Linked DNA regions of Homo sapiens: region 1 is linked to region 2. The links come from fine-mapping of genetic effects on gene expression. A gene starts in region 2. The other region holds a variant in brackets. All regions are shown on one strand. Distances are between the middles of the regions. Region 1 has its middle 68 kb from the start of MRGPRX1. Region 2 holds the start of MRGPRX2 (MAS related GPR family member X2).

Region 1 (5,388 bases), 190 kb before region 2:
ACAATAACTTGCTGTGGAAAGAAGAGAGTTCTTGGTACATACCCTTACCTTTCCTCCTTCTTCAAGTCCAAAGATAAAGAGCTGCCCCTTGCTAAAGGGGTAGAGCCTTTCTGGGATTCCGTGACTTCAGAGCACTATTCTGTGTTGTGTCATTTAGGAGATGCCTACAAGAGCTGGAATGAGAACTGGCAACCAACCCAGGTTTATGAAGATACAGACAGCATGTGATTTCCTGTATGAGGATTGCAGGCAAATCAGAAGCCAGAGCTGTTTGAGCCACGATCCCTAACTGAGATGTTTCTTGGCCTCTGTCCCATTATTAATACATATCTGCCTCTCTCATCATATCCCATCTCATTCAACTTCCTGTAAGTAATTGCTGTTTTGAACTTTTACAATTTATTATGGGCCTAGGTATCAATGTCAAGCAACGTGAGCTTGTTTTGTGAGGCTTTATAACTAAAAACTAAAGTAGATCATAGGGTCTTTCAGGGCTTGCAATGGCTTGATCCCACTCTGTGTGTGGGTTTGGTTTTCTAAGTCCATGATTATTTTCTGTTCAAAGACAAAGTAGAAAACTCAAGAGTTTAAAGTTCATGTGGAACCAAAAAAGAGCCTGCATTGCCAAGTCAATCCTAAGCCAAAAGAACAAAGCTGGAGGCATCACGCTACCTGACTTTAAAGTATACTACAAGGCTACAGTAACCAAAACAGCATGGTACTACTACCAAAACAGAGATATAGACCAATGGAACAGAGCAGAGCCCTCAGAAATAATGCCACATATCTACAACTGTCTGATCTTTGACAAACATGACAAAAACAAGAAATGGGGAAATGATTCCCTTTTAAATAAATGGTGCTGGGAAAACTGGCTAGCCATATGTAGAAAGCTGAAACTGAATCCCTTCCTTACACCTTACACAAAAATTAATTCAAGATGGATTAAAGACTTAAATGTTAGACCTAAAACCATAAAAACCCTAGAAGAAAACCTAGGCAATACCATTCAGGACATAGGCATGGGCAAGGACTTCATGTCTAAAACACCAAAAGCAATGGCAACAAAAGCCAAAATTGACAAATGGGTTCTAATTAAACTAAAGAGCTTCTGCACAGCAAAAGAGACTACCATCAGAGTGAGCAGGCAACCTACAGAATGGGAGAAAATTTTTGCAATCTACTCATCTGACAAAGGGCTAATATCCAGAATCTACAATGAACTCCAACAAATTTACAAGAAAAAAACAACCCCGTCAAAAAGGAGGTGAAGGATATGAACAGACACTTCTCAAAAGAAGACATTTATGCAGCCAAAAGACACATGAAAAAATGCTCATCATCACTGGCCATCAGAGAAATGCAAATCAAAACCACAATGAGATACCATCTCACACCAGTTAGAATGGCGATCATTAAAAAGTCAGGAAACAACAGGTGCTGGAGAGGATGTGGAGAAATAGGAACACTTTTACACTGTTGGTGGGACTGTAAACTAGTTCAACCATTGTGGAAGTCAGTGTGGCGATTCCTCAGGGATCTAGAACTAGAAATACCATTTGACCCAGCCATCCCATTACTGGGTATATACCCAAAGGATTATAAATCATGCTGCTATAAAGACACATGCACACGTACGTTTATTGTAGCACTATTCACAATAGCAAAGACTTGGAACCAACCCAAATGTCCAACAATAATAGAATGGATTAAGAAAATGTGGCACATGTACACCATGGAATACTATGCAGCCATAAAAAATGATGAGTTCATGTCCTTTGTAGGGACATGGATGAAGCTGGAAACCATCATTCTCAGCAAACGATTGCAAGGACCAAAAACCAAACACAGCATGTTCTCACTCATAGGTGGGAATTGAACAATGAGAACACATGGGCACAGGAAGGGGAACATCACACTCTGGGGACTGTTGTGGGGTGGGGGAAGGGGGGTGGGATAGCGTTCGGAGATATACCTACTGTTAAATGGTGAGTTACTGGGTGCAGCACACCAACGTGGCGCATGTATACATATGTAA[C/A]TAACCTGCACATTGTGCACATGTACCCTAAAACTTAAAGTATAATTTAAAAAAAAGGAAAAAAAAAAAGAAAACTCAAGAGTGGAAAATGTTACCTTGTAGTTCACACTCTTTTAATCCCTTAGTCCCATAAAATTAACATTCTAAAGTGTAAGCAGTAGAAATAATGTAAACTCTATTGAAACTTAAGTAAATTATTTTTTTTCAGACTTGGTGGAGGTCCTTTTGCTGAACACTATACTCTGTTGTGAATAGGATACACCTTCAATGAGGAAGAAATCCTTGACCTATTTCACCATTTCTCCAACATTGCATAAAGGACATTTTTAAAATTCAGTTTCTTCTCTAACTGCAGCAAAAAGGCAAGGAGGAGTCTGTTTCAGGAACCTGAATCAATTCCTATGAAAGCCTTGTTCACTTAGAACAAGGCTTTAATTTGTTCTGTTTCCATATCAAGGTCTATGTCATGAAAGCAGGGCCAAGTGGCAGTCCTGGCACGATGCTCATTGTTCTAACCAAAGGGCCAATGAACCCAGCACCTATGCTGGCCTTGACATCACTGAGAGGTACAATGAAGTCCCTTGGCACAATTTTTTGGCAGGTTGGTGAGACAGAGAAAGGTGGGTCCTTGCCATGCAGATGGGCAAATTTCTGAAACCCTGTTGAGTGTTAACAATCTATTTTGGTTTGTGCCTCAGGAGAGAGCTGGATATCGTTGGCTCCATAGACAGCCAGGGCCATGGTTCTTATCTTTTCCACAATTGGAAGCTGAACATCATACGGGAAATGGAATCAACTTCTTTTACTTGCAGCTTCTCTCAAAGCCCAAGCCAAGTCCGCAACCGTTTTCTACCAACTGACCAGTGATAGCAAGGGACTGCATCAAAGGCACCAGCCCGTTTTGTGAGCTCACACACCAAGTCAATCTCAGCACCGGTGTGGATCTTGAAGACCTTCAGAGTCACCATAATGGGAACCCCAAAGAGCTGAGCAATCTGAATTTGCTGCTAGAGGTTACGGCAGCCATCTGCCACCAACTGGATGTTCTTTTCTTTATGTTCTTTCTTCAGAGGAACACCAGCAGTTACACTTGGCCCGCCACTGTGCATCTTCAGAGCTTGCACCGTTGCCACCAACACAACCACACTGGGCACCAAGCTGGAAGCTTGACACTTGTTGAAAAATTTCTCCATTTCAATGTCAGCACCAAAGCCAGCTTCAGTCACTACAAATCCTTCTTCACCAACCAGTTTCAGGGCAATTTTGTCAGCCAACACTGAAGAATTGCCATGGGTGATGTTAGCAAAAGGGCCCACGTGCATGAATACAGGTGTCCATTCCAGGGTCTGCATCAGATGGCCACCACCATCCTTCCCAGCCATGTCTTCATGTCTGAGAGGCTGTTCATAAGGGCCAGCACCACCATGATCTCGCTGGCCACCACGATATCAAACAGCGTTTGCCAAGAGGAGCCTTTCTCTGTGTTTGCCTGCCTGATGGTTATTTTTTGTAGAAATCAGTTGTTTGTATTTTTTTAATTAAATTTTTTTATTTCCATAGGTTATTGGGGAACAAGTGGTGTTTGGTTACATGAGTAAGTTCTTTAGTGGTGATCTGTGACAAAACGGGGCAGCCTGTGGCACTGATGATTTGGGGGTGACTGGTGCTTTGACAGTTTTGATGAAAGATGCAATGAAATCAAATCTGTGAGATTTTGGTGCACCCATCACCCGAGCAGTATACTCTGCACCCAATTTGTAGTCTTTTATCCCTCATCCCCTTCCCACCCTTTCTCCCTGAGTCCCCAAAGTCCATTGTGTCATTCTTATGCCTTTGCATCCTCATAGCTTAGTTTCCACATATCAGTGAGAACGTATGATGTTTGGTTTTCCATTCCTGAGTTACTTCACTTTGAATAATAGTCTCCAATCTCATCCAGGTTGCTGAGAATGCCATTAATTCATTCCTTTTTATGGCCGAGTAGTATTCCATCATATATATATTAGTTTCTTTACCCACTTGTTGATTGATGGGCTTTTGGTTGGTTCCACATTTTTGCAATTGTGAATTGTGCTGCTATAAACATGTGTGTGCAAGTATCTTTTTTGTAAAATGACCTCTTTTCCTCTGGGTAGATACCCAGTAGTGGGATTGCCAGATCAAATGGTAGTTCTACTTTTAGTTCTTTAAGGAATCTCCACAGTGTTTTCCATAGTAGTTGTACTTGTTTACATTCCCACCGGCAGTGTAGATCACTGTATCCATGCCAACATCTATTTTTTTTGTAGAAATCGGTCATTTTTATTCAATACTCTCTGCCATGCGATGGTGGAAGGGTCGGCGTCGAGGCAGGCAAATTTACTCATTTCCTCTTCTGTCAGTGTGCTTGGATCTGTCTTATTTATTCCCAGTTTTTTTTTAGTCAAGTAATCAGAGAATTTCTGAAAATTCTGTGACACCATTCATTAAATGAATCAGCTGATTATACAGAGCCTTGTCTGTGCATTTTCATGCAGAATCCTTGGGTCGATGACAGCAGCTGGTGAATTATTGGCAACTGTGATGGCATGGATATCTCCAGTCAAGTGAAGGTTGAACTCTTCCATGGGATGACCAGGGCATATCCACTACCCATGACTCCTTCTTTCCACTCCAAAAGTCGGTCCTTGGGAAGGTTGCCTCATACAGGCAAAAGAGGTGACATGCAGATGCATGGTCAGAGCCTGCACAGCCCAGTCATAACTGTGCTCTTCCCTTCTCCTAGAGGAGTGGGCGTGATCCCAGTGACTAAGATGTATTTTCCATCTGCTTGATCCTTTATCCTTTCTAGCACAGACAAAAACTTTGTCTTTACTTTTGCCATTGATTTTAATTTCATCTGCAAGCAATCCCAACTCATTATGGGTAAATGGATCAGTAGAAAGGTCTGCTTGACTCCATTTGGAACTCCTGCAGTCTGGACTGCCAGCCTCTCCCATCCCATCCCATATGGCCCACCTCCCTGTAATCAATTGTTGTTGTGGACCTTTAAATGTCCACTGTGAGCCTAGGTTCAATGTCAAGCAATGTGAGAGTGTATTGTGGGGCTTTATAAATGAAGAAAAAGGTATATCAGAATGTCATCCAAGGCTCACCATGGCCTGACCACAATTGACTTTTTTCTTTCATATATTTTTAAATCACAGTGGTTATTGCATTCATATGTATACTTTCATTCCAACAACAGAGAAGTGCATAAAAAGTGAAAGTCTCCCGAGTCTCTTTCTCGAAAAGCCACTACTTGCTACACTTTCCATTCTTATTTGATGATGATTATTAGCTGTGAATAGTCAGCTTATATTTGTGTTTTG
Region 2 (5,388 bases):
AACTTTAAGAAACAGTAAGGAAGAGAGATTAATCAAATAAGGAGAAGAGATATGAATAGAAGCCAACTGAGAATAAGCAACTGAATGCAAGAGCTCTTTCTTGCTTCAGAAAAACAGCCGTCAATCACTCCACACTGCAGAAAACTCTCATGGGTTGGAGGCCTCCAAGGGGAAAGTGAATGTGTCCTCCATGGGGGTGCAGAATTGGCATCAAGGACTGAATGCATCCATCACATGCTGTCTTAGTTCCTGTAGCCCTGGTTGGCCTTGTGAGGATATGGAAGAAAACCACTTCTGTTGTCCTCCCTCAGGGCAGGTTGGCCTTTTTATTCGTGGCACTGAACACAGTTTGCACCTGTATTTTTTTTTTTTTTTGAGATGGAGTCTCGCTCTGTCACCCAGGCTGGAGTGCAGTGGCTCGATCTCGGCTCACTGCAAGCTCCGCCTCCTGGGCTCACGCCATTCTCCTGCCTCAGCCTCCCGAGTAGCTGGGACTACAGGTGCCCACCACCACGACTGGCTAATTTTTTGTATTTTTTTTTTCAGTAGAGACGGGGTTTCACTGTGTTAGCCAGGATGGTCTCGAACTTCTGACCTTGTGATCTGCCCGCCTCGGCCTCCCAAAGTGCCAGGATTACAGGCGTGAGCCACCGTGCCCGGCCCTGCACCTGTATTTTTAAGTGTATGTCTGTTTTTTCTTTTACTTCCCTCATTAAGCTCAACATTTTTGTTGTGGTTGTTCACTATTATATCCCCAGCCTCCAACACATATCCCTTGGAGGCCATCTATTGTAATACGCTCATTTAACAAAGAAAGACAGGCTTAACGTGTACAAAAGAGTTTCCTGAATCACATGGTGAAAAGCAGGTCCAATACCAGCTCCAGTCTCCTGGGGCCCTGTCCTAGGTTTATTTCTGTTCCATGTCTACATCATTCACTATTTGTGAGGCAGTGTTGAGAAAAATCTCCAGGTGAGCACAGATGCTAAAAGAGAATCGGGCTATAGAGACTGCTTGTTGCCCCAAAAGCCATTCTCCTTTTCTCACACATAATAATTCTGAGTCTTAGATCAGAAAAAGGCCCATTTCTCAGCTTCCCTTTATGCTAATGGCACCATGTAACCATATGTGATGGTCAAGGGGAGGTGAGAGAAAGTGATATAACCAGCTACTCCTGTACTCTTTCTTTTTTTCTCTTCTCTCTGGCTGGAATGCTGATGTGTTTGGGAGCCATGTAGGACCATGAGGGTAAGGGTACCGCTTTAGGGATGGGGAAATAGAAATTGGAAGGAGCCTTGATGTTTGATGTCTTAGAGTTATCAGCCCAAGTCTAGTAAACATTCTTTTTGATTATCACTATAATAGGTTTCTTTTTAGAGAAGCCAAAATCATAAACTTACATTACACATACCTGTGTACTTATAGCTGGGAGTACCTATGTACTCCCAATCCCTTTTTTTCCCAACCACATTCCATTCTCAAGGCATTTATGATGATAGTGAGAGACTAGTCCAAAGAAGTGACACTAGATGGGAAGGTCAAACAATTAAAAAAAAGGGAGGTGATAGAATGAGAAATTGATTCAATCACATTAATAGAGAAAGTCTCAGGAAAGACAAACTGAGAAGAGGCTATGGGAAGAAATGGACTTTCCTATTTGCTATTAGGATCTCATGTCCATCCTTCTCTACCTGCCTTTGCATCCTGGGAGGAGACATGTCTGTGCCTCGTCAATGGGCTGTCTTTCACTCAGGCTCCAAAGGGTACACATTGACAGGAGATTGGAGGGTGACTTTTTTTTTCAGCCAAAGGGACACATTGACAGTAGATTGGGGGATGATTTTTTAAAAATTTCCTGGCTCTCTCCCTGCGCCCTGAAGGGCTGTGAGTTGGCAGTGGCAGTGTTTTTCTACCTAAGGACATAGCCCTGCCTGGTGGCCCTTTCCTGTAGCCACAGCTATAGTTACAGTTACAGTTACCGCTACAGCACATTCTGAGTTCTCAGAACTTCTCTTTCTCCTTATCACTTCAGACCTAGCAACGGTAACAGCCCTCCACTATCACTTGCCTTTGAGGGCTTCATCATTCCTTAATCCCTGTTCACGCCGTTGTAAACAGTCTCTTCACTAAACTCCTCTAAACTACCCCTTTAGAGTGTGTGATGTGTGTTTTCTGCTGGGACAATGACAGATATGAAGGAAAAACCTTTTGAATAACAAGAAAATCAGTGCAACCTGAGGTTTTAAATAACAATTTAGCTTAGGGAAGTAATGACTTCATTCTAGCCTGCCCCTAAATTAAAATCAGCAAAATCTTTCTCTCCATAGTTTCAGATTTGAATGGTCGAAGAGAAGGGGAGAATATTGGTAGATAGAAGAGAAGTGGGACGAACCTGCTTGACCCCATTCGGATCTCCCAGCATCTAAGCTGCCAGCATCCAAAGCTTCCTCAAAGGAGCTTCCTGTCTTCTTTTCCTAATGAATTCATCAGGATGTGGACTAAGGTAAAAACCAAAACTGCCTTTGAAAGAAGATGGTTCTTGAACAAACTCTTACCTTAACACCCTTCTTTCTACTGGAGTTGGTGAGTTGAGAAGTGCTTTCCTGGGACTGGCAAACAGCTGAGGATGGGGAGATGCCTGCAGGATCTGGAGTGAAACCTGATGACTGAGTGAAGCTTATCAAGATGCTCAACAACCCTGTGATTTCCTGTACAGAGGGTGCTGGAAAATAAGAGTATGACACAGGAAACCACATGAGATGTTTCTCAGCATTTGCCCTGACTCCAATCACTTATCTTGGTTTCTCCCCTACCCTCTCCGGCCCCACTCCCTGCAAGGAATCACCGTCCTGAAGTCTTTCATTGCCCACAATGAGCATCCAGGAAGCAGACCAATCAAGCGACGTGAGCTTTCATAGCTAAAGAATAGTCTGCCCTCTTCTGCTTGGCATTCAAGGCCCTGGCTTACTTGACCTTTCAAAATCAGGTTTATTTCAAATGACACTAAGGTGTATAAAATGAAATGCAAAGTCTCTCGAAGTCTCATTCCCCAAAAGCAACCACTGCATACAGTTTCCATTCTTTTTTTTAAAAAAGCTTTGCGTAATAAAACAACATTTCTATTTTTGATTTATCGATGTTAACAACTAGATATATTGAGTCTCCTTATAAAATATAGGGGACTTAGCACATCACATGCACCATCTGTCACGTTTCTCCCTCTACATCATGATATTTATTAGCTAGATTATTTTTAGATCATCTAGAGCCAACCAATATTTTCAGCCTTATCTCCTATGACTTCCTTTCATGTGCCTATGCTGCAGCCAAATTGAGTTATAAGTAACAATTATGAAGCATTTAAGACAATCAGAAGAAATTATTCACTCATTTATTCATTCATTCAACACTGTTTATTGTTTGCCTATGATATGTCAGGTACCGTTCCAGGCAATGAAGACACAATGATGAACACCATACAAGATCATGCCCCTTTGCATTCCAGAGCAGCTGGGTGACCTCAGACAGGGAACATGTGTTGATTGAGGCGAGTTCTGAGACTCAGCATTTTCTTGTATTATACTTTGGTGCAGTGGGTAAACCATGCATTTGTCCCCAGAAATCTGCTTTCCTCATGAGCAGCAGCAGGACCTTAGAAAGCTTTAACTTCTGTTACTGTCTAACCTACTGTGCTCTATTATTTGATTTTGATTCTGTTTCCCTCCAACAAATGAAACACTTATTATTGTTTTAAATAGTCAGTGTTTATTCAGATTTATCCACATAATCACCAATGCTTTTGCTCATCCTCCCATTTTACATCTCATATCTTCCATTTCTCAAAACACATTCTTCAGGAGTTCCTTCTGTGAGAGTCTCTGCATGGTAAATGCCTCCTTTTATCTATCTGAAAATGTCATTGTTTCACCCTCGTCTTCTAAAGATGGTTTTTCCAGGCATGGCATTGTAGGGTGATAGTTTCTTTCTTCCAGCACATTGAAGATCCATGTTCTGACTGCCAGGGTTACTGTTGCGGCCATCAGTCAGGTTGCCATTTGCTTGTGGTGATCTGCCTTTTTTTCCTCTAAGAGCTTTTATTTTTCTCTGCTATGATACATTCTCACCAAATTGTATCTGGTGACTCTTTTTCAAATCATGTTTGGGATTTGTGGAGTTTCCTAGATTTTAAAATTATCATCATTTAACATTTTTAAACAATTTAATGCTATAATCTCTTTAAATATTAACATAACGGTGAAGAACACAAGACCAGGCTACTTGGCATTTCTCCTATGGGACCTTAGCCAGATTTTGTAACTCTGTTATGTTTGTTTCCTCATCAGTAAAATGGGGATAACATTATTAATCTATAGGTTTGCTGTGAAGATTAATAATTTAATGTATATAAATGATTTACAATAGGAGCACATAGTAAGTACTATAAAATTATTAGCTCTCATTATCACTTTTAGTATTATCTCTTTCTGGAAGTCTAATTCAACATATGTTAGCCCTCTTCTTCTATCATCCTTATTTCTTTAACCTTTTCCTTATGTCTCGTCTCTGTCTCTGAGGCTGCTTTCTGGGTAATTTCTTCAGATGTATCTTCCAGTTAACTAGATTCTTTCCATTGTGTCTAATCATCTGTTTAATCTATCCACTGAAGTTTAAATCCAATTTTTATATTACTAATTTCTAGAAGTTCTATTTTATTTTTTTAAAATTATACTTTAAGTTATGCGATACATGGGCAGAACGTGCAGGTTTGTTACCTACGTATACACATGCCGTGGTGGTTTGCTGCATCCATCAACCCGTCATCTACATTAGGTATTTCTCCTAGTGCTATCCCTCTCCTAGCTCCCCACCCCCTGAGAGGCCCCAGTGTGTGATGTTCCCCTCCCTGTATCCATGTGTTCTCATTGTTCAACTCCCACATATGAGTGAGAACATGCAGTGTTTGGTTTTCTGTTCCTGTGTTAGTTTGCTGAGAATGATGGTTTCCAGCTTCATCCACGTCCCTGCAAAGAACATAAACTCATCCTTTTCTTACGGCTGCATAGAATTCCATGGTGTATATGTACCACATTTTCTTTATCCAGTCTATCATTGATGGGCATTTGGGTTGGTTCCAGGTCTTTGCTATTGTTAATAGTGCTGCAATAAACGTATGTGTGCATGTGTCTTTATAGTAGAATGATTTATAATCTCTTGGGTATATACCCAGTAGTGGGATTGCTGAGACAAATGGTATTTCTGGTTCTAGATCCTTGAGGAATCGCCACACTGTCTTCCACAATGGTTGAACTAATTTGCACTCCCACCAACCGTGTAAAAGCGTTCCTATTTCTCCACATCCTCTCCAGCATCTGTTGTTTCCTGACTTTT

The links. PIP is the estimated chance that this variant, and not a neighbour inherited with it, causes the effect.
Region 1: its variant is the best candidate, but not a certain one, in a credible set for the expression of MRGPRX2 in lung (TOPMed, PIP 0.90).

Annotation. Positions count from the first base shown.
Region 1 is chr11:18,868,528-18,873,915 of GRCh38, forward strand. It overlaps the pseudogene LOC645397. Among named protein-coding and RNA genes, the nearest start is that of MRGPRX1, 68 kb to the right of the region's middle. The variant C/A (reference allele first, on the strand shown) is at 2,039.
Region 2 is chr11:19,058,064-19,063,451 of GRCh38, forward strand. MRGPRX2 (MAS related GPR family member X2) reads right to left here and starts at 2,654. Exons shown (of 2, transcript NM_054030.4): 1 at 2,556-2,654.